Linked DNA regions of Homo sapiens: all the other regions are linked to region 1. The links come from fine-mapping of genetic effects on gene expression. A gene starts in region 1. Each other region holds a variant in brackets. All regions are shown on one strand. Distances are from middle to middle.

What was found. PIP is the estimated chance that this variant, and not a neighbour inherited with it, causes the effect.
Region 2: its variant is fine-mapped to the expression of CD59 in whole blood (TOPMed, PIP above 0.99).
Region 3: its variant is fine-mapped to the expression of CD59 in esophagus mucosa (GTEx, PIP above 0.99).
Region 4: its variant is fine-mapped to the expression of CD59 in whole blood (TOPMed, PIP above 0.99). The same link has a PIP of 0.9 or more in blood mononuclear cells.

What each region holds. Positions count from the first base shown.
Region 1 is chr11:33,732,068-33,740,174 of GRCh38, forward strand. CD59 (CD59 molecule (CD59 blood group)) reads right to left here and starts at 4,356. Exons shown (of 4, transcript NM_000611.6): 1 at 4,315-4,356. RefSeq lists an enhancer at 386-515 and a silencer at 4,005-4,474.
Region 2 is chr11:33,696,982-33,705,088 of GRCh38, forward strand. It overlaps C11orf91 (chromosome 11 open reading frame 91), which reads right to left and starts at 3,845. Exons shown (of 2, transcript NM_001166692.2): 1 at 3,264-3,845; 2 at 1,280-1,533. The coding sequence starts at 3,759. The coding sequence ends at 1,448. It overlaps CD59 (CD59 molecule (CD59 blood group)), which reads right to left. Exons shown (of 4, transcript NM_000611.6): 4 at 6,029-8,107. RefSeq lists silencers at 3,511-3,600, 3,781-4,020. The variant G/C (reference allele first, on the strand shown) is at 3,931.
Region 3 is chr11:33,685,717-33,693,823 of GRCh38, forward strand. No RefSeq gene overlaps it. Among named protein-coding and RNA genes, the nearest start is that of C11orf91, 11 kb to the right of the region's middle. RefSeq lists an enhancer at 4,411-5,610. The variant A/G (reference allele first, on the strand shown) is at 3,683.
Region 4 is chr11:33,779,639-33,787,745 of GRCh38, forward strand. It overlaps the pseudogene SPICP1. Among named protein-coding and RNA genes, the nearest start is that of FBXO3-DT, 9.0 kb to the left of the region's middle. The variant C/A (reference allele first, on the strand shown) is at 3,628.

The DNA.
Region 1 (8,107 bases):
TGCCAGTAAGACGTGCCTTTCACCCTCTGCCATGATTGTGAGGCATCCCTAGCCACGTGGAACTGTGAGTCCATTAAACCTCTATTTCTTTACAAATTACCCAGTCTTCGGTATGTCTTTATCAGCAGCATGAAAATGGACTAATACACCTCCAAAATCTCATGTTGAATTTTAATCCCCAGTGTCGGAGGAGGGACCTGGTGGGAGGTGACTGGATTATGGGGTGGTTTCTAACAGTTCAGCACCATCCCCCTAGTGCTGTCTTGTGGCAGAGCTTAGGAAATCTGGTTGTTTGAAAGTGTGTAGCACTTCCCCCTTTGCTGTCTTCCTCCTGCTCCCGCCAAGTAAGGCATTCTTGCTTCCCCTTCTCCACCATGATTCTAAGTTTCCTAAGGCCTTCCCAGAAGCAGAAGCCTATACAGCCCAAAGAACTGCGAGCCAATTAAACCTCTTTTCTTTATAAATTACCCAGTCTCAGGTACTTCTTTATAGCAGTGTGAGAATGGACTAATACACCTTGTTCCTGTGTTAACTTCCATTTGGTGAGCAAATATCAAGGGCCAGTTGCTAAGATAGATGCTCTTGACATAGTAACTGGAGTTAATCCTCACAATAATACCATAAGGTAAACTGAACCTTTGCCTCCAATTACAGGGGGAGGAAACAAGATTGAGGAAGAGAACTAATTTATGCAACTAACTTATGTGGTAGGTAGAATAATGCCTCTCTTCCCCAAAAATGTCCGTATCCTAACTCCAGGAACCTGTGAAAACAGGAGACCTTGCATGGCAAGTGACTTTGTAGATGAGATTAAGGAGATTATTTTGGATTATTCAATGGGCCCAATGTAATCCCAGGGGTCATTGAAAGAGGAAGAAGGTAGCAGAGTCTGTCAAAGACTCATGACCGACAACAGAAAAAGAGGCAAGAAATTTGAAGAATGAGATGAAGACACGAAGGGTTCCCTAAGCCAAGGCACACAGGCGGCCTTTAGAAGCTAAGAATGGTCCTCAACTGACACTCAGCAAAGAAACAGAACCTCAGTCCTCCAGTCACAAGGACTATATTCTACCAGGAACCTGAATGAGCACAGAAACAGACTCTCCCCTAGAGCCTCCAGAGCAGCACAGAGCCCTGCCACCTTGATTACAGCCCTGTGAGACCTGTGTCAGACTTCTGATTTACAGAATGGAAAGATTAATAAACTTGTGGCATTTGAAACAGCTAAATTTGTGGTGGTTTCAGCAGCAGTAGAAAATTATTATAAGGCCGAGTGTGGTGGCTCATGCCTATAATCCCAGCACTTTGGGAGGCTGAGGCGGGTGGATCACTTGAGGCCAGGAGTTCCAGACCAGCCTGGCCAACATGGTGAAACCCTGTCTCTACTAAAAAAAATACAAAAATTAGCCAGATGTGGTGGCACTCACCTGTAATCCCAGCTACTTGAGAGGCTGAGACACGAGAATCGCTTGCACCCAGGAGGTGGAGGTTGCAGTGAGCCAAGACTGTGCCACTGCACTCCAGCTTGGGCAACAGAGAGAGACTGTCTCAAAATTAAAAAAAAAAATTATTAAAATTATTATAGCAACCTCTGAACTGGAAACTGGTAGAACAGCATTTAAACCCAGGTCTAAGCTCTGAGTGAACGAACCATAGTTAAACTCTAGTGGGGAGACGGGAGACTTCTTATAAATTCAGCTTCTGAAATACATTAGTTAAGCTGAGGTCATTAGAGAAGAGAGTTGACATCAGTGGTGTTTCCACAAGATTCACAGTTGCCCATGAGTATGGTTACTCCTCCTAGGAGCCTGAGGCCTTACAGACTGAAGAATTTTAAGGCTAGAAGTGTCCTCAAAATAAAACCCAATGTTTTTATTTTATAGGAAATTAGTGGAGGCCCAGTGGGATGAAATTACCTGTCCCAAGGCAACATGTTAGTCGCAAAACCACCCTGGATGGATCTTGTTTCTATTCGCCAGGGGCTGGCAACTCACAAGATACCTAGTGTCAGCAATGTCAGAGAACTAGAGCTTTTGAACCCCAGGTCTGCGTGTCACCTTGGAGACATACACAATACCTGCTCTAGCCATGCCTGTTGAAGCGCCCAGACAAACATCCATCACTCAGTTCACGGAACAAATTACATCAGCAGGAAGAGACAAAGAGAAAACAACCATCATAACGGAAAAGGCTTTCCAATCCAGCCAAGGTTCTCATGCCAGGAATAACCACTCCAAAACTCTTTGTGTGATATACATATAAATTCTAGGGTACATGTGCAGGATGTGCAGATTTGTTTCATAGGTAAACGTGTACCATGGTGGTTTGCTGCACCTATCAACCCATCACCTAGGTATTAAGCCCAGCATGCATTAGCTGTTTTTCCTAATGCTCTATCCCCACCCACCCCACCTGCCGACAGGCGCCAGTGTGTGTTGTTCCCCTCCCTGTGTCCAAGTGTTCTCATTGGTCAGCTCCCACTTATTAGGCCAGAACTCTTTGGACCAAACAAATCTGCAGCTTCCCCTACAAGGGCCTTTCCTGCAGTTTGTTCCGGAATGCCAATCCCTAACTCTCCAAAGAGTCCTATCTCCGCACTCACGGCCCCTCCCGTGTTAAGTACACATGCAAAACCAAGGTTTAGTGAATATGTTTCCTAAGATATAGGACATAAGTAAAAAGAAGTCTTTGCCTTTAGAAAGCCTCAAGCACTTCTGGGCTTGGCAATGTCTGTGGCGGTTTGGCTGAGGTTCTTAAAGAGGTGGCCCAGAATTTTCCATGCTCTACTTTTCAAGAGCTTCTACCAGCAGCTGTCAAAGATGAATGCCATTAGGCACCCCACTCTCTCACCCTAAGATCCATTTTATTTAGGCTTTTATCTCCTAAGCCACTCAGCTAATGGGATGTTTTTCTTACAGCTAAGTTCAGCAAACAGTTTCTAGTTTCCACTGTGAAAATACAGAGGCCACAAGTTTTAGGACTGTTTGGCTTGTAGGGGAGGCAGCCTCCCTTTCTGCCTCTCCTTCATAAACTGCCACGTAAATAGCCACATTTTGGCAAACGTTGCCATCTCCCTCAACATTCGGGGCTCTGTGCCTTCTTCAGGGAACTGGGAGTAAACCGCCAGGAGTGGAGAACTTGAACAACTGCTCAGGGATCGCAGGGTACCTGAAATAATTAGCAGCCGCCGCGTTTGTGCTGAGCGCTTTCCGTCAATCATCTCAACCACCCTGTGAAGTGAAGCCTATTGTTTTACCCATCAAGTGCTGTTAAATACTTCCAGAAATGACCAGTGAAGAGCCTGGGTATCACTAAACGGCCATAAAAGGCACACTGCTTAATGTTGGTTTTTTTTGTTTGTTCTTTGTGGGTTTTGTTCGTTTTTGAGGCGGAGTCTCGCTCTTATTGCCCAGGCAGTAGGGCAATGGCGCGATCTCGGCTCACCGCTACCTCAGCCTCCCGGGTTAATGTTGTTTTTTGAAAAGTCAGCAGTCAGACTCTAAGAAGGGTGCGGCCCGAGCCGACCCAAGAAAACAAAACATCACGTTGTACTTAAAACGTCCGTTTCGGCCGGGCGCGGTGGCTCACACCTGTAATCCCAACACTTTGGGAGGCGGAGGCGGGCGGATCACGAGGTCAGGAATTCAAGATCAGCCTGACCAACATGGGAAAACCCCGTTTCTACTAAAAATACAAAATTTAGCCAGGCATGGTGGCGCATGCCTGTAATCCCAGCTACTCAGGAGGCTGTGGCAGGAGAATCGCTTGAACCCGGTACACGGAGGTTGCGGTGAACCCAGATCGCGCCACTGCACTCCAGCCTGGGCAACAGCGAAACTCCATCTCAAAAAAAAAAAAAAGTCCGTTTCGCCCGACACCTGCTTTTCAAAATTACACATTTAGACCGCGAGGGGAGAGAGGAACTGCCGTGACCACGGAGGGCTGGCCTTTCCCCCGGCGCAGTTTCTCTGGACCGCTAGAGCTTCCCTTGAGACGAAAGCGATGGCAGGGGCCCGGGTGCGAGGCTGCCCCCGAGGGAATGGGGGGCGCGACGGGGGTAACGGGGCTGCTTCTGGGAGAGGGCGCGCTCCCCGTTTCTCCTTCCTCGTAGATAAAATGAAGCCAGCGTTCGGCTAGGACACCGGGCCGCGGTGACGGGTTGGAAGGGCCAGGCCTCGGGAGGCTCGCCCGGCAGGGGTCGAGTGGAAAGCGAGGACGGGGGTAGCCCCCACAGACCCTCCGCCCGGGCCCAGACTGCCGCCGCCACCTCGGCTCGGCTCACCCAAACCCCAGCAGGCCTTCGGGCCTTCTTACCTGGCGGCGCCCAAGATCCTCTTCCAGCCTCGAGCCGCTTCTGCGCTCAGCCCCCGCATTCTTTCGCTCCAGCCCGCAAGGCTCCGCCCCCCGGCCCCGCCCCTCAGGATGCCCTTGCCCTCCCAGGCTCCCGGCTCCCGCACCGCGCAGCCGCACCTCGGCAGGAACCTCCTCCTCTCCCTCCACCCCCGCGCGGAGCTCAGCCTCCTGGCCCAGGTTCTGAGAAGGCCGGGTGGCCAGGACCCAATGAGCACCTTCAAAACCCCAGGGAACTGAAAGTTTGGGGCGTCCTCCTCGGATTTGCTATGGGACATAAAAACAGTAGGAAACTTCCAAAGACTTCTGATTTTCCCTTTTACTTTTTTTTTAAGTATATTAAAATGTTTTTCAAAACGTTTCTGTGCGTCTTGCTGGTGCCCTGGGTGCCCCAGGGCCTGGCTATCGGGCTATGCGGCCCTGCTGCAGTCTGAAGCTGCTTCCTACTGCGAGGCTTGGGCAGCATCCAAATAGCCATCAGCCACAGCCGCATCCGTATCCGTGCCTTGTGACTTGTTTGAGACCCAAACAAAATGTTATGCGTTTAAAAGCTTACTGGGCTGCTCGGGGACCAGTGTTTTGAATGAACCTCTTCGAGTGTCTCTATCAACTTAGCTGGTAGCTACTGTTCCCCAGCAGCCACCAGAGGCAGGGACAGAAGAGCAAGACCAGGGGATCCGCCTGCATGAGTCTGTCCCTTCAGGGTGGCCTCGCCTCAGGGACTGGATTGTAGGCATGGTTTCAATAACACAGCGGTGTGAAAGTTTAAGAGTTTTTAGTACTTACGGACCCTGGGTGGTACACAGCTTGCCTAGAGGACACACACACACACACACACACACACACACACACACACACGGAGATCAGGGAGAACAGGGAGAGGGAAGGGAGGAACGGACCTTTGGGCCAGCAACTTTATCCAGTTAGGTTTCCTCTGGAGAGCTCTAACTGGTGGATTTAAAAGCAAGCAGGTGAAAAGGCAGAGGTGGGAGGAACTTGAACCAGAGTTTGAAGCTGCAGTAGTGCCCTGTTATCACATCACTGCATGTTTATCTCTGGCCACCAGCTAGAGCCATTTGCGTGGGGTATAGTACTGGAAACTGTCAATGGTGACTGAGACTTGCTTCTGTTATTAAAAGTTAAACATATTCAAAAATGGATGCTGAGGTAACAAAAAATTATAAGCACTCACCAGAACCGCAACCACCATTTGGAACATTAGTTTTATGTGCAGATGTAATTAGAAGTTTCCATTTGCTATTATATTTGGAAAGTGTCCCACTCACTGCAGAACTGACTGTAAGAACGCCATAGGAGGGAGGGTGGGGCTACAGGCCAAAAGTACAAGTCTTCCTCCAAGAGGATGGCCTCTGTTAGAAAGCATGAGACACACTTTGAGGGTCAGGGTGAGAAGATATTACATCTCAGGGCTGCTTGTGTTGAACTGGTCAGGGAAGAAGGCATGAGATAAAATTTAAGCAGGGGGAATCATAGATTACTGAATGTCTTGCAGGGAAAATCATATAGTAACTGTCTTGACGCTTCTACTGTTATTCTGATGGCTTTGGGATGTCAGGGAATGAGTTCCATTTGGTGGTGCTCAAATCCTGGTATTCCTCTATACAAGTGGGAGTTTTTTAAATCAGGATGACTTGCTTTGATATTTAAAGCATGTCTCCTTAAAACAGCTAATACTGTATATTTCCCAAGATGGATTCCAAAGCTCTTTTGTGTACATACCTTACACACATCCTGTTAGCTATTCCTTCCTTGACACGCTTGGCTTCTGAGATGCCACTCTCTCCTAGTTTGGTTCCCTAGAATGGTTTCTTGACCATTCGGTCTTGAGATTCTTTTCCTTTACCCACTAATAATTTGGTGTCCCAGGATTAGACTGAGAACCATGGCTGTGTGTGCTCCCTGGGAGACTATAGTGTATCTACTCTTTTACCTTGGGATGTATGTTTGCAGATGATTCAAAAGTCTGTCTCCATCCCTGACCACTCCCCCTATCTTCATATTCATATCCAGCTGACTGCTGGACATCTCCACTTATATGTTCCACAGACATCTTGAACTTAATGTGCACAAATCTGAATTCATCTTTAAAGAGTGACTGCTTTTCCTGAATTTTTTTCATAAATGAAGACAGAAACCTAGGAATCAACGTTGACCTCTTCCACTCCCTCACATCTACTCAGCCATTCCTGCCTATTTTACCATTTCAATATCTCAATTTCATTCCTTTTTCACATTGCTACTGTGCTAATTCAGATCTGTAGTTTGCGTTGCTTGAGCCATTACAATTCCTTAATACCAGGTCCCCATGTTGCCCATGTCAATTCCTGCATCCCCTGCCCCTTCTCTGCTTGCCCTCCACACGGCTGCTAGAGACCTGGCTAGTTTACCTCTCCAGCCTCATGCCTCACTTTTCATTTTCCACTTCATTTTACCTTGTTATCATCATCCTTTTGTGAATACAATATGCCTGCAGCAGCCAGTATGCAACCATGATCGTCTTTGAGAGGAAAAGTCTTGTGCTAAGGATGGCAGGTCAGAAAGATGGAGCCAATCTGGACTGTTGATAACACCACTGTGCCATCATGTCAGCCTTGAACTAGCTACCTCTGACTATTCGCAAGAATAACCACCCCCAAACTATTTAAGCTACTGTTAATTTAGGTATTTGTCTTATTCTAGTGATATATCAAGCCTCAGAGAAATTAGTAAAAAAAATCAGTTGTGTTTTCAAGGGTCCTCAGAGCCAGAAATGGCCTTTTCACCACCAAAAGTAGAGTCTGGTTTGGGCAACATTAATGCCAACTGTTAAATTCCTGTTACGTGTGAATAAGCATTCTTGCCAATAGCAGAAAATACAGAAGCTTGTTACCAACAAACTTCACGTTAGGCCGGGCGCGGTGGCTCACACCTGTAATCCCAACACTTTGGGAGCCAGAGGCAGGAGGATCACTTAAAGACAGGAGTTTGAGACCAGCCTGGTCAATATAGTGAAACCCTGGCTCTACTAAAAATGCAAAAAAGGGCATGGTAGTGCACACCTGTGATCCCAGCTACCCACGAGGCCGAGGCATAAGAATCACTTGAACCTGGGAGGCGGAGGTTGGAGTCAGCCGAGATCATGCCACTGCACTCCAGTCTGGGAGACACAGCGAGACTGTCTGAAAAAACAAACAAAAAACTACACCTCAGTATGAACTAGAGGTCACTCATTCAACATACTAAGAGAATGTGAATTCTGATGAGAGGATAAAGCAAATCAAAGCATTCTGAGGAGCAAAGGTTAGACAGGGTTGGAAGGGAGATTTGGGGCATCATAAGTACTCTGGAAATAGAGAGAGAGGTCATCAGAAAAGAGAAAGAAAAAATGGCAAGGGATTCCAGGGCCAGCCTTAATTGCCAAGATTTACTAGTTTTTGATTACTGCTTTATTGGAAAAGTTCGGTTTTGAAAAAATTAAGTGGTTTGACGCTATGGTCTGAATGTTTTTGTTCCCCCAAATTGTTGAAATCCAATCCCTAAAGCAATAGTATTAAGAGGTAGGGCCTTTAGGCTCTGCCCTCATGAAGGGGATTAGTGCCCTTATAAAAGAGGCCTGAGGAAGTTTGTTTGCTCTTTCCACCACATAAAACACAGCAAGAAGGTGCCATCTTTGAAGCAGAGAGTGGGTACTTACCAGACACCAAATTTGCTGATGCCTTGATCTTGGACTTCCCACCCTCCAGAACTGTGAGCAATA
Region 2 (8,107 bases), 35 kb before region 1:
CTTCTCACCAAAACCTGTTCCACCTGTGTTCTCCTATCTTAGATTACCACTCTGTGCTTCAATTGCCTGATACTTCTCACCACACCCACTGCTACCCGCATGATCTTTTACTTGGTTAATTTTTAGAGACAGGGTCTTGCTCTGTTGCCCAAGCTGGCATGCCAGTGGCATGGTCATAGCTCACTGTAACTTTGAACACCTGGGGTCAAGCGATCCTTCCCACCCCAGCCTCCTGAGTAGCTGGGACTACAGGTGTGCACCACCACGCCGGGCTCAGCATGGTCTTTTTAGCTGGAATATTAATTACTACAGCCTCCTGACTGCTCTCCCTGCCTCCTTGCTTGCACCCCGGTAGTCTATTCATATCACAGCAGCACAAGTCAGATCCTGTCACTCCCCAGAAGGCTGTCTAATGACTCTGTCCCACTTGGAGTAAAGCCCAGAGTCCTTACTGTGACTATAAGGCTCTATACAAATGGGCCCCCTGTGTATTCACCCCTACCACTCTCCCCTCACTCCTCCTGCTCCAGCCATCTGGACTGTTTGCTGGTTCTCAAAAATGCTGCCATGCTCCCATCTTTGAAGCAGCCTTTGCACTGGCCCTTCTACCTGGCACATTCCCTAGGGTGTCACGTGGCTATGACCCTCAACCTCCTTCAGACCTTGTTTAAATAATACGTCTTCAAGAAACCCCATGTGAAATTCTGCCCTGCCTTCCTCTGACCCACCCTGGCAATCCTTACTCTGCTTTTTTTTCCCCCTTAGCATGTCATCTTCTATGATACCATATTATGATTTACTTATTTATAATATTTATTGTCTGTCTCTCCCCCACCCCCAATCCCAAGTGCCTAGGCACAAAATAAGCACTCAATAAATATTTCTTGAATATATGAATTTCTAGGAAGGTCCAGGGCTTTGATAAGATTATCAGAGAGTTTGTGGTCCAAAAAACATTTTAAAAAAAATGAAAACACCAACCACTTCCAAGGAGTAAATATGTTTGGGAAAAAAAACAAACCACACACCAAACCTCCACTATTCCAGTCCTCAAAGAACCTTTCTGAGCAGAGACACAGCAGTAGAACCAATATATACATTGCCCTTGGTTTCTCCCGATTCCTTCCTGATAATCTGTTGTTCTGGTTTGCATGACTGTGGTAGTGTTGGGGGTTCCCTCCCTGGTCTCGGGAGACCTTGAATGCTGGCTGGACAGCAGCTTCTAGACACCATGAGAGAGCTCCCTCAGCAGCACATAGAGAGGAGAGAGACCATGAGATTTACCACACAAAGTGGGCACTGTATGTGAAGTACATGCTGGTAGCAACAAGAACAGCGGTAAATACAGAACAGAAAATAACCATCTTTGAAATGACAACAAATGGGACACATTATCTAAGCACTAACACCTAAGGAGGTGGCTGCCCAAGCTCTGGTAGGCAGCTCCTCAGGAGAGAGAGGCCGACTTCTTTCCAGGTTGCTTGGTCTTCAGTCCTTGTAACTTTTCGTCTTTTAGCGCCTTCAGGAATGTGTCTGCAGGAGAGCAAAACAAACTTAGCCGTAATAGAGATAAGGGCTTTTCCTAACACTTCCAAAGCAAACTCTTGGGAAGCAACTGTGCTTCCTCGACCCTAAAACTCCATTTGTGATCCAAGATGGGAGAGAAAAAAACAAAAAACTGAAAACTCTGACTGTAAAAACATGTAACTGGTTCTGACTGTACATGCAACACATCCAGTTACATGTGTTTTTACAGTCAGAGTTGCTAAGTCCTGGATTTCTTCTTCTTCTAATTTTTTTTTTTTTTTTTTTTTTTTGAGAGGGAGTCTCACTCTTTCACCCAGGTTGGAGTGCAGTGGCACAATCTTGGCTTACTGCAACCTCGGCCTCCTGGGTTCAAGCGATTCTCCTGCCTCATCCTCCCGAGTAGATGAGATTACAAATGTGTGCCACCAAGCCCGGCTCATTTTTGTATTTTAGTAGAGACAGGGTTTTACCATGTTGGTCAGGCTGGTCCTCAATGATCCTCTTGTTGGTCAGGCTCCTGACCTCAAATGATCCACCCGCATTGGCCCCCCCAAAGTGCTGAGATTACAAGTGCCAGCCACCACACCCGGCCCCTGGATTTCTTAACTATGTATTCGGTTAAGATTTCTTAACTATGAATACATAGTATTATGTATGTATTCATAGTTAAGAAATCCAGGACTTAGCAAAGCCCAGTTTTTCTAGGGACTGTCTTCCTTCCATGGCTATGAGAAAGGGTGCATTACAGTGTGTCTGATGAACTGAAGACCATTTCCATGGCCACACGGACCTAAGCATTTAGGTTATTTCATACTTCCCTTCTCTGTGTGGCAGGGGAAGCCAACTTAAGCCGTTATATACGATAGTTGGAATGATCTTTTTAGAACTATCTGCCCTTCTCCAGTGGTCAAGGACAAGCCTTAGCCAAAACAAGTGATGGGAAAGACAAAGTCTGCAGGACAACCTACCGCTACTGAAAGTTCTACTTTGCAATAGGTCCTTCTTGGAGTACAAGGCATTTAACAACTTTACCCTCCAACAGGGAGGAGTCATTCAGCTCGTAGGCTGAGGGATCCTGCCCGCATCAGCACACGTGGTCCAGAGCCCTAAGACTTCAGACGTAAGACCAGATATCAGCCCAGGATCCTGGTGAGAGAACTACCGGCGCCAAGGCCACAGAGTCCCAGGGGGGCTGCCCCCCAGCATTGAGAAGTGGAGTGTCCCAAAGCTGCCCTGGAAACGGCCTTGGGCCTTGTGGTTCTTGCACAACTCCCACCTCCCCCTACAGACAACTGACAGTCACCTTACTTCACCTTCCCCCCATGGAGAGCCCCGGTTTAGGACCGAACATTAAAGCTTAGGGACTGTCTGTGGTGGGTGGAGCTCCAGAGTACAGGGTAGGAGGATGACTGTGCAGGAGGATTAAAGTTCAGGACGGGGTGGTGGCGGATGGAGTTCCAGGTGTGGAGGCTCAGAGTCCAGATGACCCAAAGGGTTTAGGACGGAGGGAGGATGGAGTTTGGGACTAAGAGGCTCATGAAGTTCAGATCTGTGGTGGGGGGAGGAGTCGGTTAAGTCCAGGATAAGGGAGTCTGGGTGCTAGGGGATAGATTTTGGATCTGGGACTACTGGGGGCTGGAGTCAAACCAGGCTACATTTCGGGTCGGGGCACGGAGCCAAGGAGGGAGCTAGGGCAGGCTAAGGCTGGGCTCGGTGGCCCTGGCGAGGTCACGCACAGCTCTGGGAGTCGAAGCCGTCCCCAGTGATGGTGAGCAACTCCAGCTCCTTAATCCGGATCTCCAGCTCGCAGAGCTCCTCCGGGTGGGAGGCAGAGGCGAGCCTGGGGGTCGAGGGGCAGGGGACCAGGGGCGAGGCAACCACCTCAGGCCCCGGCGGCGGTGAGTAGAAGAAGCGCAGAGGCTCGTAGGGGATGGAGGCCAGGCCGGAGGGCCAGGGCGAGGGCCAGGGGCGCTCGCTGGAGGGACCCAGGCCGGGTGGTGGCGGGGGCGGGGGCGCCGGGGCGGGGAGCGCCTGGGACAGGGACCGGGCCCCCGCCGCCCCGCCCACTGGCGCCCCGCCCGCCTTCAGCGGCACGAAGAGCTTCTTCCAGATGTTGAAGTCGCTGAGCGGGGACGAGGAGATGCCGCGGTCGTACAGGGACGGGAAATAGAGGGGCGGAGCCGACCGCTGGCTCATGGTGGGGCTGTGGCTGCCGCGCCGCCCCTTTGGCATCGTTTGAATGAGGGTCTGCGTGGGAGGAACCCCGCGCCGGGAGACGCGCGCTCAGGCCCCGAGTCGCCGGGGTTTCGAGGTTCCACAAGCCCCGCCCCGATGGAGCGCGGCCCCACCCTTTCGCCTCAGCCCGGCCCCTAACAGGCGGGGTTCCAAAGCCCGGACGACCAC[G/C]TCCCGGAACGCGGCCCCGCCCACCTCGGCTGGCCGCACCCCGCAGTTAGAAAGCCACGCCCCCTGGCTCGCCTCGCCTCGCCTCCCGTCCCTCGACTCCGCCCACCGCCTCGCTCTTGCTCTGCGACCCCGCTGGCTTCCGTTGTCATATCCCAGCATACCCTCATCCAGAACAGGCAGCGGGCCAGGGCTGCAGAAGAAAGCTTACTTCAGGCTTCCTCTCTTTCTCCCATGAGGGAGAAAAGTATTTCCTAGAAACCTGGCCCCTGCACCAGCAGACTTACCTCATTGCCTCACTGGCCGCGCCCACAGCAAAGAAGTCTGAGAAAATCAGTGTCTGATTTTTCATCCACTACTGTGGGAGGCAGACAAAGGAGAAGAGGATTGATTGGGAATGGCTGTTAGAGCCAACCTATGTATCTGCCAAACGTTAGCAGTGTTGAGGAAGATTCTAGAAAAGGGGATCCTCATCTGGTTTGTAATAGACCTGAAGGAGTGTTTTCAGTGAAATGCAGTTTAGTTCTCTTCCAAACACAGATATCACCAGGAGCTAACAGGCAACGAGCTAACCACCAAAAGGAAATCCTGTCCGCCCTACCTCAAATACTTCACCCATTGCTTATGAGCGATTTGGACATTTTGTCCAAAGGACATGACAGCTCATTTATGTGAGTAACCTGTATTAGCCATAGACTGAGGGGAAATAACTAATACATTTTCTTGAGAGCCTCTGCCTAATGATCACTGGTATGACTAGTGATGGGTGGAGGGCAGTTAAAGAGTCAGTATCAGCTTCACAAGTTAAATATATATATGCATATGTATCTGCACACACAGTGCAAAGTGTGTGTGTGTGTGTGTGTGTGTGTGTAGCAGCAAAGTGGAGAGAGTCAGATATTCAAGCTGGGTAGCCTTGGACAAGTTGCTTGACTTTTAAGTAGGTTTTCCATAAAATAGAAATAAGAAAACCAGGCTGCCTCATAGGGTTGTGATCAAACAGAAGACGGAACAGTGTGTGTGTGAAACACTTGAACTTGGACACTTTGTCCAAACACAAGAGGCAGCTGTCCCTACTAAGGGGCATGTCTGAAACTGGGAAGCTTTTTCTTCCCACACTGAGCTTCCCACACTTAGTTGTCACACGCAGTATTTGCTCTCTGACTTTGGCAGCCACCCATCATTGTTTATTCATACAAGTGATCACTAGGCTGAGGCTCTCAAGAAAATGTATTTCCCCTCAGTCTATGGCTAATACAGGCCATGTGCGATAGCTCAGCACCCAGCCTGTAATCCCAGCACTCTGGGAGTCTGAGGTGGGATCTCTTGAGGCCAAGAGTTTGAGAACAGCCAGGGGCAACATAGCGAGATTCTGTCTCTATAAAATAATTTAAAAAATTAACCAGGTGTGGTGGCATTTGCCTGGAGCCACTCAGGAGCTGAAGTGGGAGGATTTCTTGAACCAAGGAGGCTGAGGTTGAGGCTGCAGTGAGCCACAATCATAGCACTGCACTCCAGCCTGGGTGACAAGGCAGGACCCTGTCTCAAAATAAATAAAATAAAATAAAATAAAAAATACCCTTATCTTCCATTAGTTTCCCCCACATATTTAACTTCCCATAATTTACTGCCCAAGAAGCTCAAACCTCTTTTCCTTTGTCTTATCACTTTTCTACAATCGCCCATTGTTAAAATTGTATATAAGCTCTCAAGCCACTTCTTTGGGTTTTCACTTTGTTTCTGTAAGAACCCCATGTACCTGCGTAATAAACTTTGTCTTCTGTTAATCTGTCTTTGTCAGTTTAATTCTCAGGCCCCAGGCTCTGAACCTAAGAGATTAGAAGAAAAATTTTTTCACCCCTACAGAACCACAGTAATGGTAAGAACCAGGGTTTTGGACTCAAGACTTGGGACCAAACCCTGGATCCACTATGTATTTGGCTGTGCGGCTGAACCTTTCTCAACCTCATTTTTTCATCAATATAATGGGAATAGTAATGGCATCTACTTGCTTAGGTTGGCAAGACTAAGTGAGACAGTTTAAGTACCTGGCAATGGCTTGTGTTCAACATTAGCTCTTGTTATTACATATTAAAGGCCCTTAGAAGGAAAAGAGATTTTGCGTTATATTTTTTAAATGAAGCAATACAATCATTTTTTATGTATATATCTAGTTGAGGAGAAAAAATTACAGATTTTTTCCCCCTTACTCCAAGATAATCTAAACAGATTTTACTCTGGATGGCTTAATTATAACATAATCCATGAAGTTATAGCCAGGGGGTTAAATAAGAAGTTGATGACAAACTTGGTTTCTCTAACAAGTATGCAAGAAAACTCAAGTGCCACAATGAACACCCATAAACTGCTGTCAGGAGGCAAAGTCCCTATGAGGTAATAATAAACCCACGAGGTTAAGGCAAAACCCTACGGTTGTTTCTGCAAACAAATGTCCAGGAAACTCAAGTTTGTGATGAAAGAACAGTCTTGAATTCAACTTCAGCAGAACCTTTCCCTCCCTGGGCTCCAAAGCACTATGTCACCTACCTCTCCACTCAAATGCCCCATTAAGTACCATCCTGTTGGAGCTTCCTAACGCCCCTGCTCCCTGGTTTCATTTGGAACCAACTGAGAGACACAAGTCCCTCTTCGTTGATCAGGGTCAGTTGAAAGATGTAGCTGTCGGCCTGGTAGCCAGGTGGGCTTGCTAATCCTGCACCTCTACCTTAAGCTTACCCAGCGTGAGGCCAGGTTAGAAAGTCACAGGCCTTGGCAGCAGGCAGAGAGCCTTTACTGTCATAGTGAAGAGCTTGCCAAGGACAGGACTGATTCTTCCTCCAGCCTCACCTATCGGGGCAGTCATTGTTCCGCTGTCAGGAGGAGAGGGGCCAGAAGGGTCACACTGAAGAAATGTGACATGAGGGTGGAGGTTCCTGTCCAGCATTCTTCACTCTCTATTTAACCGAGGCTGACTCATTGCAGTTGGCACTAATTTTCCATTGCCACAGCCCTCTCCAGCCAGGAGGGCCTGGAGTACCTGAGGTGCTGTTTGCCGGGTTCCCTTGGTCCTCAGACTGCTCCCTTCAGAGAAAGCACAGAAAGCCTTCTCTGTCCCAAGGAGCCCCCCTTCCCCTCCCCCACTCCAGCTCTGCATCTGGACACACTGTCAGCCATCAGATCCTGACCAGGTGCTCAGCCTCTTTAGGGATATGTCACAATTTGCCGTGCCCGGTGGCTCTGGGCAGCCTTTGGACATGTAGTGGTTGTGTCTTGGAATACAAGAGTTGTGCCTGAATCTGGGACTCTCTGTGACCCTGGGAAAATCACATCAGCTCTCTGAACCCCAATTGTCTCTGATCTATAAAATGAAGACAGTATCTACTTCATAGGATTGATTTGATGGACATATGTATAAGCAGTGCCAGGGACAACTAGTAGGTGGTCATTGGAGTGTGGCTACAGTTATTATACAGTTACACATGGATTCCTTGATTCCCCATTAAGCCCTGGTGGATGAATGAGGAAAATGCAGCAGGGGGTCCATCCTAGAAAACCCAACCCACTCCAGATAATCGCGCCAGCCTCACACCTGAGAAGCTGCTTCTACGACCTGCTGAGGACATAATGATAAACACACACAAGAGGCTACTGTGTCCCAGGCACTTGTCTTAACTCATTTAACTTTTCTAACAACCCTAAACCTAGGGTTCTCATTTTCCAGATGAGAAAACTGAGGCATGTAAGGTTAAGTAACTTGCCTGAGGGTCGCCGATTAGCATCAGAGCCGGCATTTCAAATAGACAGGCCAGCTCTAGAGGCCAGGGTGTTTGGACAGCCTCCAAATTGTCACCCTAGCCTTCAGGGCAAGGCTGCACACACGGCCTCTAGTCTCCTACCCCTCTTCCTGGCAGGAGGCTGGCTCTGACAGGAGGTTGTTTGTGCCACAATTTAAGGACCAAGCTATTCTGGGAAGCCCAGAACAGTCTTTCCTTTATTATTCATCTCAATTAACCATTGTGTTGGTCTGGACTTGGGGGTGCAGGCATTCCCATCTCCCTTTCAAAAAAGTTTCTAAAAAATGCAGAGCAGCCTTTATTCTTGTTTTCCCAGGTAAATGTGGTCCTATGTACTTGCAGAGTAAGAATTTAAAAAAATAAACCTGAGAGGTAGTTTAGTGGAA
Region 3 (8,107 bases), 46 kb before region 1:
TCCTGGCTATTCAGAAGGGAGGATCACTTGAGCCCAGGAGTCTGAGGCTACAGTGAGCTATGATAGCATCACTGCACTGTAGTCTGGGCCACGGAGCAAGACTCTATCAAAAAAAAAAAAAAAAAATGACATGGAACTCACTCCTAGAATCATATGGTAAGCTCATGGAAAATAAGATTATATTTGGGGAAAATCCATAAGTCTCCTCCTGTACCAGCTCAAGGACAGTGTCGTTAAAGTGATGCATGTGCATGATTTGCATGTGATGAAATCAGGAGGGAACTTGCCCGTCCCCACTCTGGAGTCCATACCCTTGGCAATTAAGACGTTTGCCCACACAAACATTCTCCATATCAGCTGGCTGCTGTGGGCTAAAGGACAACAGGGAAAATATAATAGTTTGAAGCCAGTCACTGAAGAAAAGAGCTAAGAGTTTAAGACTTCAGGCTTTGGAGTGGCTCAGCCACATCCTAGCTAGATGCCTCTCGATGCCTCTATAAAATGGGGGCTGGGGCCATTTTCCTCATGTGTTGGGATGTAAATATTGATGAGATGCTGTATGTAGGGTGCTGAGCCCAGGGCCTGGCACTTGGCAATTCCTCAGTAGCTGGCAATTGCTAGCTGGCAGGGCTTGGGAGAAGCTCCAAGGGTGTCTCTAACCCCCTGACTGGACTCTCCTGTGCTCAGACACCACCACATCTTTTCCAGTGCTCTAACGGGCCCGTTAGAATGGTTGCATTAAACAGACTATAAAATGACATCAGTCCCTGAAATGCACCTAAAATAAACAGTTATTATGGACTGGATTGGGGAGGGCGCAGTGGACAATTCATATTTGCACATCATCCTTGTTTCTGTGTAGCAGGTTACACAATCTCTGCCAAGAGCCTGCTCATATACACGCATGCATACACCCAAACACGCATACTCACATGCCACACACTGGACAAGTGGGCCTATTCTGATTGTCCAGTGACTCTTCCTAAGTCACCTCCAAGAGAGAGAAGAAGGGACCTGGATTCCTGGAGGACTGCACAGAAGAAGAAGCTGCCAGCTGGAGCCTTGCAGGGAGGGAATAGGCTCAGCCATTGACCCCCTGTGTCAGCTTCAGCAGTGACTTCATTTCCCTGAGCCTATTTCTTCATTTATAAAGATGTGCCATTTTGCCTGCCCCCACAACAGTTAACTCTGGAAATCAAGCCTGCATGAAATCCCAAATATTACCTCTTCCCAGACTCAACACAATCTAATCAATTAAGAGGGGAAACTGCAGATATATTCTTCTATTCAGATCTGAGCTGTCCACTATGGTAGTTACCAATAGCCACGTGCCTATTTCAAGTTAAATTTAAATAACTAAAGTGAAATAAAGTTTAAAATTCACTTTCCCAGTTGCACTAGCCACATGTTAAAAACTCAATAGCTACATGTGTCTGATGGTCACCATAGTAAATGGCACTGATATAGAACATTTCTGCCATTTCAGAAAGTTCTATTGGACAGTGCTAAGATCATCCCAACATTAATGGCTAGTAATAACGACAGACAATAAAAAGATAAACAATAGTCTATATAAATAGATATATGTCTGAATAATAGGAACTAGGTAGACAAACAGAAGAGTACACAAAAACTAGAAATACATTGTAGATAATGCTATGAACTGAATTGTGTCCCCCGCTAAATTCATATATTGAAGCCCTAACCCCCAAAGTGATGGGATTTGGAGACAGAAACCTTAGACAGAGAATTATGTTTAAATGAGGTCATGAGGGTGGGGCCTTCATCATGGGATTAGTGCCCTTATAAGAAGAGAAAGAGACACCAGAGCTCTCTCTTTGCCATATGAGGACTCATGAAGAAGGTAGCCATCTCCAAGCCAGAAAGAGTCCTCAACAGGAACCAAATCAGCCAGCAGGTTAATCTTGGACTTCCCGGCTTCCAGAACAGTGAGAAATGAATGTCTGTTTTTTAAGCCACCCAGTCTGTGGCATTTGGTTACAGCAGCCCAAGCAGACCAATACACATAGTAAGAGTCAATGAGTTCAGCCCAGCTTCTCTTGTTCATGTGAACTGAACTTTTCATCTTGAAACCAGTTCTACAAAGAGCAGATTTTCCCTGGGTGAGTAAGATGTGGCTCTCAGCAGACAGCCACCTGCAGGCCTCTGGGAAAGGCCAGGTGCTGTGCCTGTTTATTTTTGCAATGAAAGCCTTCAATGGCTGTAGTGTCTCCTCCTCCCAAAAGGTTTCTAAATTGGATTTTTCCCTAGGTTATAATGAACAGGCTAATAAATGTCAGCCCTGGATGTGAGAGGACTAGAAAGGGGAGACCGTTTCATCCCATGTCTAAATCCATGCTGCCACCTGGTGGATCCCACTATAAGAGAAATGTGGGGATTTTGTGTTAATGACCAGAAACCTTGTTGCAAATTGCCCAGTGAACCCAAAGAGGCAAAGATGATGGTGAGCATTAGCTGTTTGTCACATCATGAGCTGAGCAGTTTACATACATATCTCAGGTAACTGGCAACAACCCCAGGCTGGGGGAATTATTGTGCGCCTTTTCCAGATGAGAAAAAGGGCCTAGAGAGTTAAGAATCTATTTTTTTTTTGAAAGAACAATTGGATGAATAAATGAGTAAACAAAGGAGTAAATGAATGCAGGCTTAGTTTATATGCATTGTTTTCAGAGTTACAGAATGTTTGTACTGGATTCAGGTAAACTCTGAAATGACAGTGATAATCCTGGCTGACTCTGTGAATGAGTAGATGGAATAATTAACATCTATTGAGTACTGGCTTTGGACTATGCATTGTTCTGAGTACTTCATACATATTAACTTACTTCAACCTTATAGCAACCTATGAAGTGGGGGTACTATATAATCTCCTCATTTTATAAATGACGAAACAAAGACACAAAGGTTAAGCAGTTTGTCCAAAGTCACACAGCTGGTGTGTGCTGGGATTTCAACCCAGGCAGTATGACCCCAGATCCAGCAATTATATACCACTTCTCAGATAAAAAGAGCTGTCTTAGGCCTGTCTCTGAATCTTGGTAAAGAACTCAAGGTACATCTTGACCCCATCCCCAAGCCTGTCATAAAGGCACTTGGCCCAGATGAGTCCCAGGATATTGCATCTAGATCATCCTTTCTTATCATTTTATGCAATTGACGTTTCCACCATAAGTCAAACCACAAGGCTGAGACTGCATTTTCCCCTCTATCCGCAGCCAGCAACGTGCTCCTTAAGCACATGGAGTGTCCACTTTGTGCAAAACCGTGTGCTCAGGATGACGATGATGACAACACAGGCCCTACCCTTAAGAAGATCGCAGTCGAGCTAGGGAGACATACTGATGGGCTATTATAATCCAGGTAGTAAGTCCCAGGAAAGGGGATGCCCAGAGTACAAAGGGAGCTCAGAGAAGGGACACATAGCCCAGACTGGGGACTGGAATCAGGGAAGGCTTCCTGGAGGAAGTGACATCCATGCTGTTGGGAGAGGAGCACTTCCCTTCAGCTTCCTTCCAAGAGCAGTACGGGAGTCCTGGCCTCTTCCTGCCTCTTTACCCGCCCAATGCCCAGTGATGGATGGGGACTTGTGATTCATAATTTGGGGAAGAATAAACTGGGCATACTTAGCCACACCCTGCCATTCCTCCTGGCTTAAGTAAAG[A/G]GAGTGACTGGCAATGGGTGTCTTTGATAATGAGCAACAGAAACTAAACTAAGGGAAACTAAGAAAGGTGTCGTCCGAACATTTAGAAGGAAAGGAATGAGGTGTTGCCACTGGACAACTCAGCTCCAACTACCATTTCTTGGGGAGAAAATATGAGAGACGGAGAGCAGCCTGCTCGCGATCATGTGTACTTGGAGCCTGATGCCACTCTTGTGAGTTCCCTGGGAGCCAAGTTGGAAGGAAGCTGACTGCAAAAGGCAGGAGGATGCAGTGAAAAAGAGATGGGAGGGGAGCTGCCTGGGCTCCTGGTGGCTTCCAGGCCCTGGTGCCAATTGCGCGAGGCCCATGAGGGAGCCATGTATCTTTGGCAGCCAGGGTCCTTCTTTTGGGAAGCAGCTGCTCCACAGTTCCAAGTGGTTCTGGTGGGGATGCAACCACAGGACCCTGGCCACCTCCTCCGCAACATGGACAGAGATGGAAACGTAGCCCGAGCTGGGCCAATCACATTTTCTAAGAACTGGTAGTTGGAGCTGAGTTGTCCAGTGGCAGCACCTCATTCCTTTGCTTTCCTTGTTCAGATGATGCCTTTTTAAATTTCCCTTAGTTTAGTTTCTATTGCTTGTGATCCAAGAAGCCCATTGCCAGTCACTCTCTTTACTCAAGTAAGTCAGTTTGAGTGGCCTGTTTCCCCCCAAAACCAAAGAGCACCTGGAATAGGTGATACTTCAGCTTTGCATCATAGATTTTCTGGATTCCTATTGTCGATTGAAATTACAGCTGTTTCACCAGAAATAACTTGATAAATGTTTATTGGAAGCCAAATGTGAGGATCGACCCAGGAAGACACACCAACAAAGCTGGGAGTGTCCTAGAGTCTGTTACAAGTTAGAAAGCTTTTATGGGAAGGTTTAGAAGAGGGGAGGAGGACTCTTCATACAAAGAGTTGTCTTTTTGTTATTGGAAGGTATAATAGAGAGATTAGTCACTGGCTACAGATGACAACCTACAGGCTAAAATGTCTACGGGCAAGACAGCAAAGTTTCATGATTCAGAAACAAATCAGCAAAACTTCATGATTCAGAAGCAAATCAGCATCCTTTTCCATGTCAGGCATGCATTAACCACTATGTCAACAGTTTAAGGAAATCACGATAAGATTCCTTACTCAGAAACAGGATGTCCTCATGAATCACAAAACTTCTGCTAGGTGGGAAGTCTGACAAATGCAAGTTATTACTATTTAGTCACTTTCATGGCAGCTCGGCACAGATATGTTCTCGGATATGCTCATGCGCTGGTGTGGACAGAATGACAGGATTGGGTGGTGACCATCCACCCTTCCTTTTGGGGACTGCCTACAGAGAGGCCATGCCCTTGGCCTTGTCTGTTGGGTGTGGGCCATGTGATACTGCCTGGGAGGAATGTGGTTGGCTCCCTCTAGAAAACAAACCCCTCTTCCCCAAACTGCTTCCCAGCCATATTCACCCCCTTTGTCGCTGCTTATGGGGCTGAGCTCCAGGGCCTGCGCATTGAATGCTTCTCCCTCCCTGTGGACTGGGCCTCCCTCCAGCTCACATCTCGTGGCCACCACCACTTCCAGCACCAGTGACTCAACAATGAGGGCTGTGTACTACACAAACAGGAAAATAATATTAAAATGATTCCCAGTTTGGGGCAGTTTCACATCTGTCATTTTTTGTTGTTGTCCCCACTCCCAGCCCCCATCCTGTGAAAGCAGCGTCTCCATTTGCCTGATGTGGAAAGAGGCTGTGAGAGGCTGGGTAACTTTCCCAAGGTCGCAGATCTGGTTAATGTCAGAATCAGGACAGAGTTCAAAGGAAAAGGCCAATATTCCCTGAGGCACCAACAAGGTATTTACCTCCAGTGAGAACAAAAGCCGTAAAGCAGTAATTAAATGTCTCTTCCTTCTGTTCCCAGCTGACTTCCACTGAACCCTGCCTGACCGCTTTGGCACAGAGGGTGGGCACAGGTGACTTGGATAAGGTAGCAGGAGGTCTTCCCATCACACTTGAAGTCTATATTTCTCTCAGGAGTAATAAGCTTATGATGAAAGGATCATGATATAAAGAGCTGGTTATCTGTTCTATCAGGTTTCATGCTTCATCTTGCCCAAACAGTCAGCACTGCAGAAGGCCTTCAGCCTCCATCTACAGGCCTCTACCTCAGCTTTCCCTCTACCCTAGTTTCTTGAAAGTAAAGATCGCTAATTGATCTGACTGGCCAGAGTCCAGGACAATTCCTTTGACCCCACTTTCCCAGTGGATAGGTTTACTACATCTTAAAGGTCAGGACATGGGGGCCAGGTGCAGTGGCTCACACCTGTAATCCTAGTGCTTTGGGACGTCAAGGCAGGAGGATTGCTTGAGCCCAGAAGTACAAAACCAGCCTGGTGGTGAGACAAAGTGAGACCCCCACCTCTACAAAAGAATTTAAAAATTAGCCAAAGACTTGGGAGGCTGAGGTGGGAAGATCACTTGAGCCCAGGAGTTCGAGACTGCAATGAGCTAAGATCACACCACTGCACTCCAGCCTGGGCGACAGAACAAGACTCTGTCTCTAAAAAGCATTAAAAAGAAAAAATAAAGTCAGCACGTTGGGCTTTCCTTCTTCCCTGAGTTCATGCAATAGTCAGACCCAGGACAAGCCTGCCTCCACGGACGGGTGAATCAGGCTCTTGTCTGCCTCTTTCCTGTCTGGCACTGAGTGGGCAAATCAAGCCAGAGGAAGCAGCGAGCTTCATTTATACCATCATCCCAGCTTTGAATGCTCCAAAACAGCTTTCCTTCTAGCTCAGCCACAAATAAAGCGGGGCTTTTGTTTTTCATGTCGCTGGTGGCGTGCTGGTAAACTCTTTTCAACCAGCTCTTCTCAGTGGAGGTCCGAGGGAGCCAACCCTGATTTGTACATTTGCCAATTTCCTTGTTGTAAATACACTCCCCGTGGCCAGTTTAAAAAAACCCCACATGACATCATTCAGAAGATATGCACATTAGCACACCATTATGTAGTATTTCGACCACACAGACACAACAGGCATAAATGAGCTCAGGAGTACAGATGATAGAGAACTGTAGCAAAATAATTAGGAAGTGATGAATTGTGAATATTTGTTACCTTCGTCTTAAATATGATTTAATTAAAAGTTGATATGGTTAAATTTTTAATAATGGTTGTATTTAATAACCAGCTCATAACATTCCTGAAAATTTGGCAATTAGTTCTCGTGAGCCCATAGAAACTGGCTCCGGCACACCACTGCATTTATCTATTATTCCTTGCATGTGGTGTTCTCTCAATCAAGCTCTCTATTGCTTTCCTCTGCCAAGCGCCCTTTTCTTTGAGGAACAGCCTCTTTTGTTTCATTTTGTTCTGAGGGGCTGTCAATTACATGACAATTACATCCCACCAACCGACGGTAACAGGACCTGTGCCCAAAGTTAGTCCAAGCCATGGGGTGACTGGGGAGGTGGCAGGCCTGAGTGTGGGCATTTCTGGGACCTTGGCTGTAATACTACCAAACTATCAACCCCATTCTCTCTTGCCAAGTTGTGGGAAGCAACCTAGCCAACACCAAAACCACCCCCTACCAGTATTTACATGTATTGGAAGACCTGACCTCACTGTGCTCCCCATCTGTCTCTTGCAGGGGCTCCCTCCCTGCAGGGGCTCCCCCTCAGCAGGGTCACTGTGGGCTACCTGTGGCCCTAGACAAGGGTCACACTTATGAAGGACCCTTTCCACACAGCCCTGTCTGTTCTCAGGTTCTGGCAACCACTCCCTCCTCTCACACCTACCCGCCTAGGGTTAGCAACAGCTCGGTGGGTGATAATCCGCATTCCCTGCCTGCACCTTTGTAAACACTCTGTCTTAGTCCATTCAGACTGATATAACAAAATACCATAGACGGGGTGGTGTCTAAACAATAGAAATTTCTCATAGTTCTGGATGCTGGGAAGTCCGAGATCAATATGCCAGCAGATTCGGTGGCTGGTAAGAGCCAGCTTCCTAGTTCATAGAAGGTAGGAGTGGTGAATAAGCTTGCTGGGCCTCTTTTATAAAGGCACTAATCTCATTCCACCCTCCACCCTCATAACCTAATCACCTCTCAAACATCCCACCTCCTAATACTATTGCACAGGGGATTAGGTTTCAACATATGAATTTTGGAAGGACACAAACATTCAGTTTATAGCATAATCCCTTTATTAAACGCTCTTCAAATTAGCCAATTTGGGTGTTCCACGCATTTCCTGCAGGAACCTGGTGGACCTCCCTCTGTACTCCCCACACTGCTCTGTTCATTATGCTCACAGGAGGCTTTGTGGGCCCAGCGGACCAGAACACAAGCTCTGGAGTCAGCCCTGAGTTTGAATTCTACCTCTCCTATTTACTAGCTGCAATACC
Region 4 (8,107 bases), 48 kb after region 1:
TTGTCTAGGCTGGTCTCTATCTCCTGGACTCAAGCGATCCTCACACCCCAGCCTTCTGAGTAGCTAGAACTACAGGCTTGTGCCACCACATCCAGCTAATGCTTAAAAAAAAAAAGAAAAAATACTCTTTATACCTTTTCTACCCTTCTCCATGCCCTAGGAGGCTGATCTTTAGGTACTCCTTCACCTGGGCTTCTTTGTTATCTGGCTTCTGGAAGAGAAAGCCAGATAACAAAGAGAGAACAATGGCAGAGAAAAGTGACATTCAGGTATTTATACATCTCCACCTCCTGGGATTTTGGTTGGGGCTGTGTTCCTCGGTGGAGACAGCTCCTGTCAGCGCCCTCTTTCCTACCTCCAGCTCACTCAGCTCTGATGATACTGTTCCCTCCCTCCAGCTGCTAGAACTGTGCCTCTTGCTTTTTCAGGGTTGGTAACGGCTTCCCTCCCCCACCCCATTACTAATCCCTGGGCACCTCACTGTCCCGCATTGGTTCCCTTATCTGGTTCATAACTCTCTTAGTATTGTCCCCACTGAATTCTGTTTAGTTATGTTCCTTTGCATGTTTTGTCTGTTTCTTGAGAGGTCTCTGACTGATATCACTTGCCCTTATCCACCAAGGCAAGCAGTACTGTAACAAACTCCCCAGGAGTACATTGTACATTGTCAGAGAGCTGAACAAATGCTGACAAAATGAGAACTGCTGGTTGGGGCCAAACATTCCACTCTCTCGATGACCTCACCACCGAATGTACTACATGAACTCCACTGCATTCCAGCTTAGAAAAGCTGACCAAAGATGAATGGGCTTCCAAGGAAGAAGAAACAATTCAGCCACCCATCTTTTTTGGGGGCTTCTTGTGCGACAGTCCAAAAAGACATTCTATCCTCTATTAAAGTCAAAGTTCTAATCTTGTGGCCACTAGCTGCTGTTGGGATGAATGCCTAACCTCTGATTGGCCTGTTTTGGAAACATCACCCTTTATACCTGGAAATTCCACAACAGGCTTTATATACCCAATAATTAACTATATTTGAGAAGGGGACACCTATGGCAAGAAGCCTTGAAAGTGATCCAGGCATCAGTAAAGCAAACCTTGTCCTGGAGCCTCCTATCTTATTCAGATGGAATTACAGATATCAATGATCAATCACACAGTGATTACAGGCTTTGGAAATGAGACTCCACCTTCTTACCAAGGACAAGCCTGCAAGGACTTTCTTCTGCTGCTGTGCCTGAAACTAGCCCCTTCTGGAAAAAGAGAATGTCACTGAAAGGAAAAATGATGACTTTGCCACCTGACATTGTCACTTTGCATTGGGTCCTGTCCGAACTGAGATACCCAGAAAGTTCTGTAGCAATATGGAAATGGCACTTACAACCAATGGCACCTACAACTTGAACCTACAAGGTTCAAGTCTGGTCCCCAATACCTTAGCCAACTTCAGGAACAACAGGTGGCTGCCCACCCATTAGACATGGAGAGACCCACCTACTGTTAAACCTAAGCTGTTGGCCTATTGGGGCCTCTTTGACAAGACTTGCATCTGACAAGAAGCATGGTTCACTGTTGAAATAGCTTGTCTCTGAGATGGGCAAATTCCATGGAATACCAATGCCATAAATTGCTGAGGCTCACAACGCTTGCATGCTGAATAATTGGCCAAACTTCAGGTGCTATTCTTGGCTGTAGAGCATACTGCTCCCAGATTGATGGAAATGAACCTTTACACAATATGTCAATTAGGATTCTCCAAAAAACAAATGTGAAGATAGGATTAGATTCATGAGAGATATATTCGGGGGCTGGGCAGAGGGCAGGAAAGTCTTATGAAGGATAAAAGAGAGGAAGCAGGAGTAGGCAAGGAGTGCCTTCAGACCACGATGCAGGTCTGACACCTGTGAAAAGAGAAGATGAAAGAAGGCGGATTTGGCAGGGAGAGTCTCGGGTTGGACTGCAGCTCTGAGAATGTCTCAGACAGGCCAGTGGAGAGTCCTTGAGTCAAAGCTGCCTGGTAGAAAGTCCAGAGACACACAGAATTGGCCTGCACTAATCCCCTGCCATGCTCAGCCATTGGCTAGGAGCAGCCCAGGGGAGGTATGGTTTTGATGCAAAAGCATGGTGAGCCGCAGACTGGCATTGTCTGTCAACTGTGCTACCTGCAGCAGGAGATCTGAGTGGCATATTCCCATGGCCATCACACACAGAAACATCAGTAATAGCCTAGCTATTTAGTCAGGCCATGGGCCACCTAAAGACTGAATTAATAAAGGCACATATTAATTATGTGCCTTTGGGACATAATTATGGGATCTCCCCATTGAAAAGATTATAAGTGACAAAATCTAGAGGAAAACAGCTGCCTGAAAAGACTGATCAAGCATATATGGGCATCATGTCTACCTACCACAGCCCATTGAATCTATGCTCTAACTCACCACAGTAATGGAACCACCCAAAAGACCAGGGATACCCAACCAGGAATTCTTTCATCAACACACATAGTAGCCACTGTTACTGAAAAAGCTCATACTCTTGGCCAACTGTGCCAGTCTGTCCATCGGTGACCTGATGATGTCTACAAGCCTAGTAGGTTTAGCTGTTTTGGGCTACAAGTTACACAGCACCATACTACCTTCTGCCTTGGCCAAACAACTAGGCACCCAGGACTTGAGGAACAGGCAGAGGAGAGTATAATCAGAAAGAGGACACTCTCTCCTCACACTCTTTTTTGGAATAGCACACAGTTGAGAGTATCCAAGTACTTTAGGGGAACAGAAACCATGCTAGGTATTTCAAAAGAGATTTAATACAAGGAATTGTTAAACATATATGGGAAGGTTGAAAGAGCAAAGGATGAATGCTGAGCTAATCCAGAAATCAAGACAGTGCTATGGTCTGACTGTTTGTGTCCTTCCAAACTGCATATGTTGAAATCCTAACCCCCAAAGTGATGGTTTTGGGAGATGGGGCCTTGGACAGGTGATTAGGTCATTAACAGGATTAGTGCCCTTATAAAAGGAACTCCAGAAAGCTGCCTTGCCTCTTCTACCACGTGAGGGCACAGCTAGAAGGTACTATCTATGAACCAGGAAGTGGGCCCTCAGCAGTGAATCTGCTTGGCACCTTGATCTTGGACTTCCCAGCCTCCAGAATTGCGAGAAACAGATTTCTGTTGTTTATAAGCTATCCAGTCTACAGTATTTTGTTACAGCATCCTGAACAAAGACAGACTGCCAGAAATAGTTCTCACCATAGGGCTGTGGAAGCAAAGGGGAAAAGATCTTTGGTTATAGAACCTCAGGGCTAAAAAGAGGAGCCATGGGCTCCCTGAGGGCCTAATGCTCTGCTCTCTCAAGAGAGGTCCCACGAAGTTGGCGTTGAGATCTCTGAAAGAGGACACCTCACAGCTGGTGCTTGTATCTCATGGCAGGTAACACACAGCAGATGCTCAAAACCTTGAAGGTAGGGTTGCCAGATTTAGTGCACACACACACACACACACAGACACAGACACACACACACACACACAGGCACACACAGGCTCACACACCACCACTGCCATCAGCATTACCACCACCAACAAAAAACAAGGGAAATAACTGAACTAAAATGGAAAAAAAA[C/A]CCCAAAAAAATTAAATTTGAATTATTTGTACTTGCCTATGCATATATACTTTGAAATAAAATAAGAATACCACATAAAGCATGATAAAAATCATTCTTTATCTGAAATAACTGAAGAAGCACATAAATTACCTACCTCTTTATTTAATTATACTTCCCTGATGATTTGGCTCTCCTTAAGTTTTCTTAGTTTTGCAGAATTTGTTTATAAAATTCCTTGCATTTACTGTCTATATTGCATTTACATTGTAACAGTTTATACAGTGTTCATAGCCAACTTATTCTTTTGCCCACTGAACATTCATTATTGAGAAAACATGCTCAACATAGCATTATGAGCTGGTATACTGAATATCTGCTGGCTGTCACTGGCTGAATTTCACAAGCTTGGGGCTATCAGTGATTTACTGACTTTTAGATATGTGGTTATTAGAGTGAGTCTGTCACTGGTTGATTTTTCAGACCATAAGTGATCTCTAATTAATGCTGGTTACTTGTTCATGACTTGAGACTTGGACCAAATAATCATCTTTGCCTTTCTTTCCTTTTTTTTTTTTTTTTGAGACGAAGTCTCTCTCTGTTGCCTACACTGGAGCGCAGTGGTTTAATCTCGAGGCTCACTGCAAACTCCGCCTCCCGAGTTCAAGCGATTCTCCTGCTTCAGCCTCCTGAGTAGCCAAGATTACAGGCACTCGCCATGATGCCTGGCTAATTTTTGTATTTTTAGTAGAGACGGGGTTTCACCATGCTGGCCAGGCTGGTCTCAAACTCCTGGCCTCAGGTGATCCACCTGCCTCGGCCTCCCAAAGTGCTGGGATTACAGACATGAGCCACTGCACCCTGCCTCATCTTTTCCTTCCTTGAATATGAAAAATCAGTACTTTTTCCTCTGAATCCCCACTTTTGGTCTACTCTCAGCCAAATCTGCAGTAGAGACCATATGGACTTTATTTGCAGAGGTATGGGTTTTAGTTATGTTGCGTTTAGGTTACTTAAGATTTAACTACTATGGCAGAAAAGTAGCTCTAACTGGCAATATTTTGTTGTTTACTGAAAGATATGAATAGAGGGCATTTAGGGCATCCTGACAAAGTCAACACAGGATACAGGACACAATCAGTAAATACAGGACATGTCCTATGAAGAGAGGACCTACTTGAAGAGGGTGCCTCTTGTTTGGTACTTGGACCTTTGATATGGGACAACCTCATACCTAATGCTTTGGATACTGAAAGGGAACTCTGGGGCTGGGGTTCAGAATGCCTGAGGACCTTCAGAGGAAGGCCTGCAGAAGCTGAAAAACAGCGAGAGAATCCTCCTCGCTCCCTGCTTTCCATTCTTCTATGAGTACCTCCCAGTATCTAAAAGCAACTCAGCTTGTTAAAGCATCAGGGAAATGTAGTGTTCAGCCTTCCAGGCCCCACATCACTGAGATTATGCAAGGGTAGGCCCAAGCTAAGACACAAGAAATAATTAATTAACACAAGCAACAATACCCTCCTCCCATTTAGACTTCAGGGAATGGATGGAGAGTTCTCATAACTCAGATCGAGGACACCTTGATGAACATGGACGCTGACTTTGCTTTGGATAGCTCCCATGGTGCCTTATTCCTTATATCACTCAGTTTTTTTTTTTTTTTTTGCCAAAAAGAAAAAGACAGCTTTATTCAATAAATGGTATATGGAAAACTGAATTTTGGCAAACAGAAAAATAAAATTGGACCCTTATTTCAACACTATATACCAAAGTCAATTCAAAATGGATTAAAAACATAAAGATTCCTGTATTAGTTTGCTCAGGAAAATTGTCAACAAGAAAAAGAAAGAGAGAGAGAGAGAGAAGAGAAGAGAAGAAAAGAAAAGAAAAGAAAAAAGACTTAAACATAAGACCAAGAACCCTAAAACTACTTGAAGAAAACATAGGGGGGTCAGATGACAGCTGAAAGAAGGAAGGAAGGAAGGAAAGAAAGAGAAAGGAAAGAAAGAAAACATAGGGGAAACATACAAGACATTGGTATGGGTAATGATATTTTGGATTTGATCCCAAAAGGACGACAAAATTAAATATAGACAAATGGTATTACATCAAACTAAAGAGCTTCTTAGTTCATGATGTGTAGCTAAAACAAACTAAAAAGCTTCTGCACAGCAAAGGAAACAATCACCAGAGTAAAGAGACAACCTATGGAATGGGAGAAAATATTTGCAAGCCAGACATCTGACAAGGGGTTAATATCCAATACATATAAGGAACTCAAACAACTCAATAGCAATGAAACAAACAAACAAAAAAGCAATTAAGGCCTGCTTTCTGCTGACCAAGTCTTCTTCCTTACCCCTCCCTAATAAGAAGGAAGAAAAAAGGCAATTAAAAAAATGGGTAACTCCTCCTTAATATAGTGGTAAAATTTAAACATTAAAAAAGTTTTGGGGCCAGCTCGGTGGCTCACACCTGTAATCCCAGCACTTTTGAAGGCCAAGGTGGGCAGATCGCCTGAGCCCAGGAGTTAGAGACCAGCCTGGGCAACACGGCAAAACAATCTCTACAAAAAAAAAAAAAAATTAGCTGGGCTTCAGCCATGTTTGTGTCACTGCACTTGAGCATGGGTGACAGAGTGAGACCTTGTCTCACAAAAAAAAAAAAAGCTTTAAGTTGTAAAAATGGGTAAGATAAAAGAGAAGGAAAGAAAAAAATGTGTAAGGAACCTGAATAGACATTTCTAGTGATGTTTTTAAAGCCATGAACCCATTTTGGCACAAAGGCTTTATCATATGCAGTCATTGACAAAATTTTTTTGTAAAGCCATCAGATATAAAGGTGTGAATTTTCTCACCTGAGTACATGACAAGAAAACGCTGAAATCAATATATAAATAAAATCATCTGTACTGGCACTGTTAATCTAGAAGAAGGTGGTTGCATAGAGAATAACAAAAATTTAGATCAGCTTATTGAAGTGGGAAAAGAAAAAAGAGCTTCAGAGGTAGGCTTTGCCTCTTAAAAAAATTAAAAATATAAGTCACTGTCAGTGTTGAGCTTGGGAGTTAGTAGCCAAAAACAAACAAACAAACAAACAAAAAGAAGTCATCGTCTGTGAAAAGAAAAGAAGAAAAAAGAAAAAGACTTTGCATCCATTGAAGTATGCAGAAAAAGAAAACAATTTTTAAAATAAAATAAAGTGGGTATAGTTGGGAGCTTAGCCATGGACATACAGAATGGAGTAATAGACCCTGGAGGCTCCAAAAGGTGGGAGGATGGCAGAGGGATGAGGGATGAAATCCTACCTATTGGGTACAATGTTCACTATTCTGGTGATGAGGATGCTACACAATATACTTCACCACTATGCAATATATCAAAGCAACAAAACTGCACTTGTACTCCTAAATCCATAAAAATAAAAGATTATCTTGGCTGACACCTCTTTAAAAATAATAAAATAAAAAAATAAAAATTTTAAAAGAGAATAGTAAGAGCAGAGCAAGGACATTTAGTCTATACTTTCAAATGTGCTTGATCATTTGAAACAATAAAGTTGTTCACTGAATCTTCACAAAGTATTATAAAAAAGTTGTTCATTGGCAGAATTTCCCAACAAGTTAGTATAGATTACATGCTCTTTGATAAAAGCAACAATATAGTTAATTTTTTTCCTCTTTAGTATTTGCTTTAAGAGAAAAATCCTAAATTTCTTCAGAGGAGGGAAAAAAGAGAGAGAGAGAGAAATCCTTAAGACTTGTAGGGATTTTTGATTACAGTAAACCATGAAATATGAGAGTATATTTAGCAATCACGGTGATTTAGCTCATGGTAATTGGCATATGTATAATTATAATTTGCATTACAGTTATTTAAACTGAGATATTCTTGATCAGGTTGAACACATTGTGAGTAGAAGATCTCTTTCCCCAGGAAATAGGATGGAGAGAGTCTTTGGAGAATGGCCTCACTGAAATGCTAAGTCAGCTTCCTCCAGATTTTGGTAATTTCCCCACTTCCTCTGTAATTTCTCAGTGCCCTGGCCATTTTCTGGTAAGTCATGGTCTCCTTGTTGCCTTTTGTTTTCCCCCAGAGCTCGGCAAGTTTTTCTTTGTTTTTTGATACAAACTGAAAGATGCCTTTGGTTATATCTACCCACTGAAAACAAGATGCCATCTCTGGATTACACAGGGATTCGTGAAGGTATTCAAACAGTCAGAGCTTCTTCCTGCCTTTTCCCCTTTTGCTGGAGAACAGTGGGTTGTACCAGCTGGTTTTCAGTTATGTTCTGCAGAGATTGATGAATATTTCCTTCAAAATAGAAGTCCGCAGCACTGTTAATTACCATTCTCCAATTATAGACAGGCTCCTCTGTAGGCAACACTCCATAGCAGCTGGAATTTCCTTTGACATGAGGACGATGGTTGATTAAAGCCAGGTAATTTTTGTAATCTGGCGAGTACTGAAGATCTCCAGTTGAATGTTGCCTCAGAACCTCA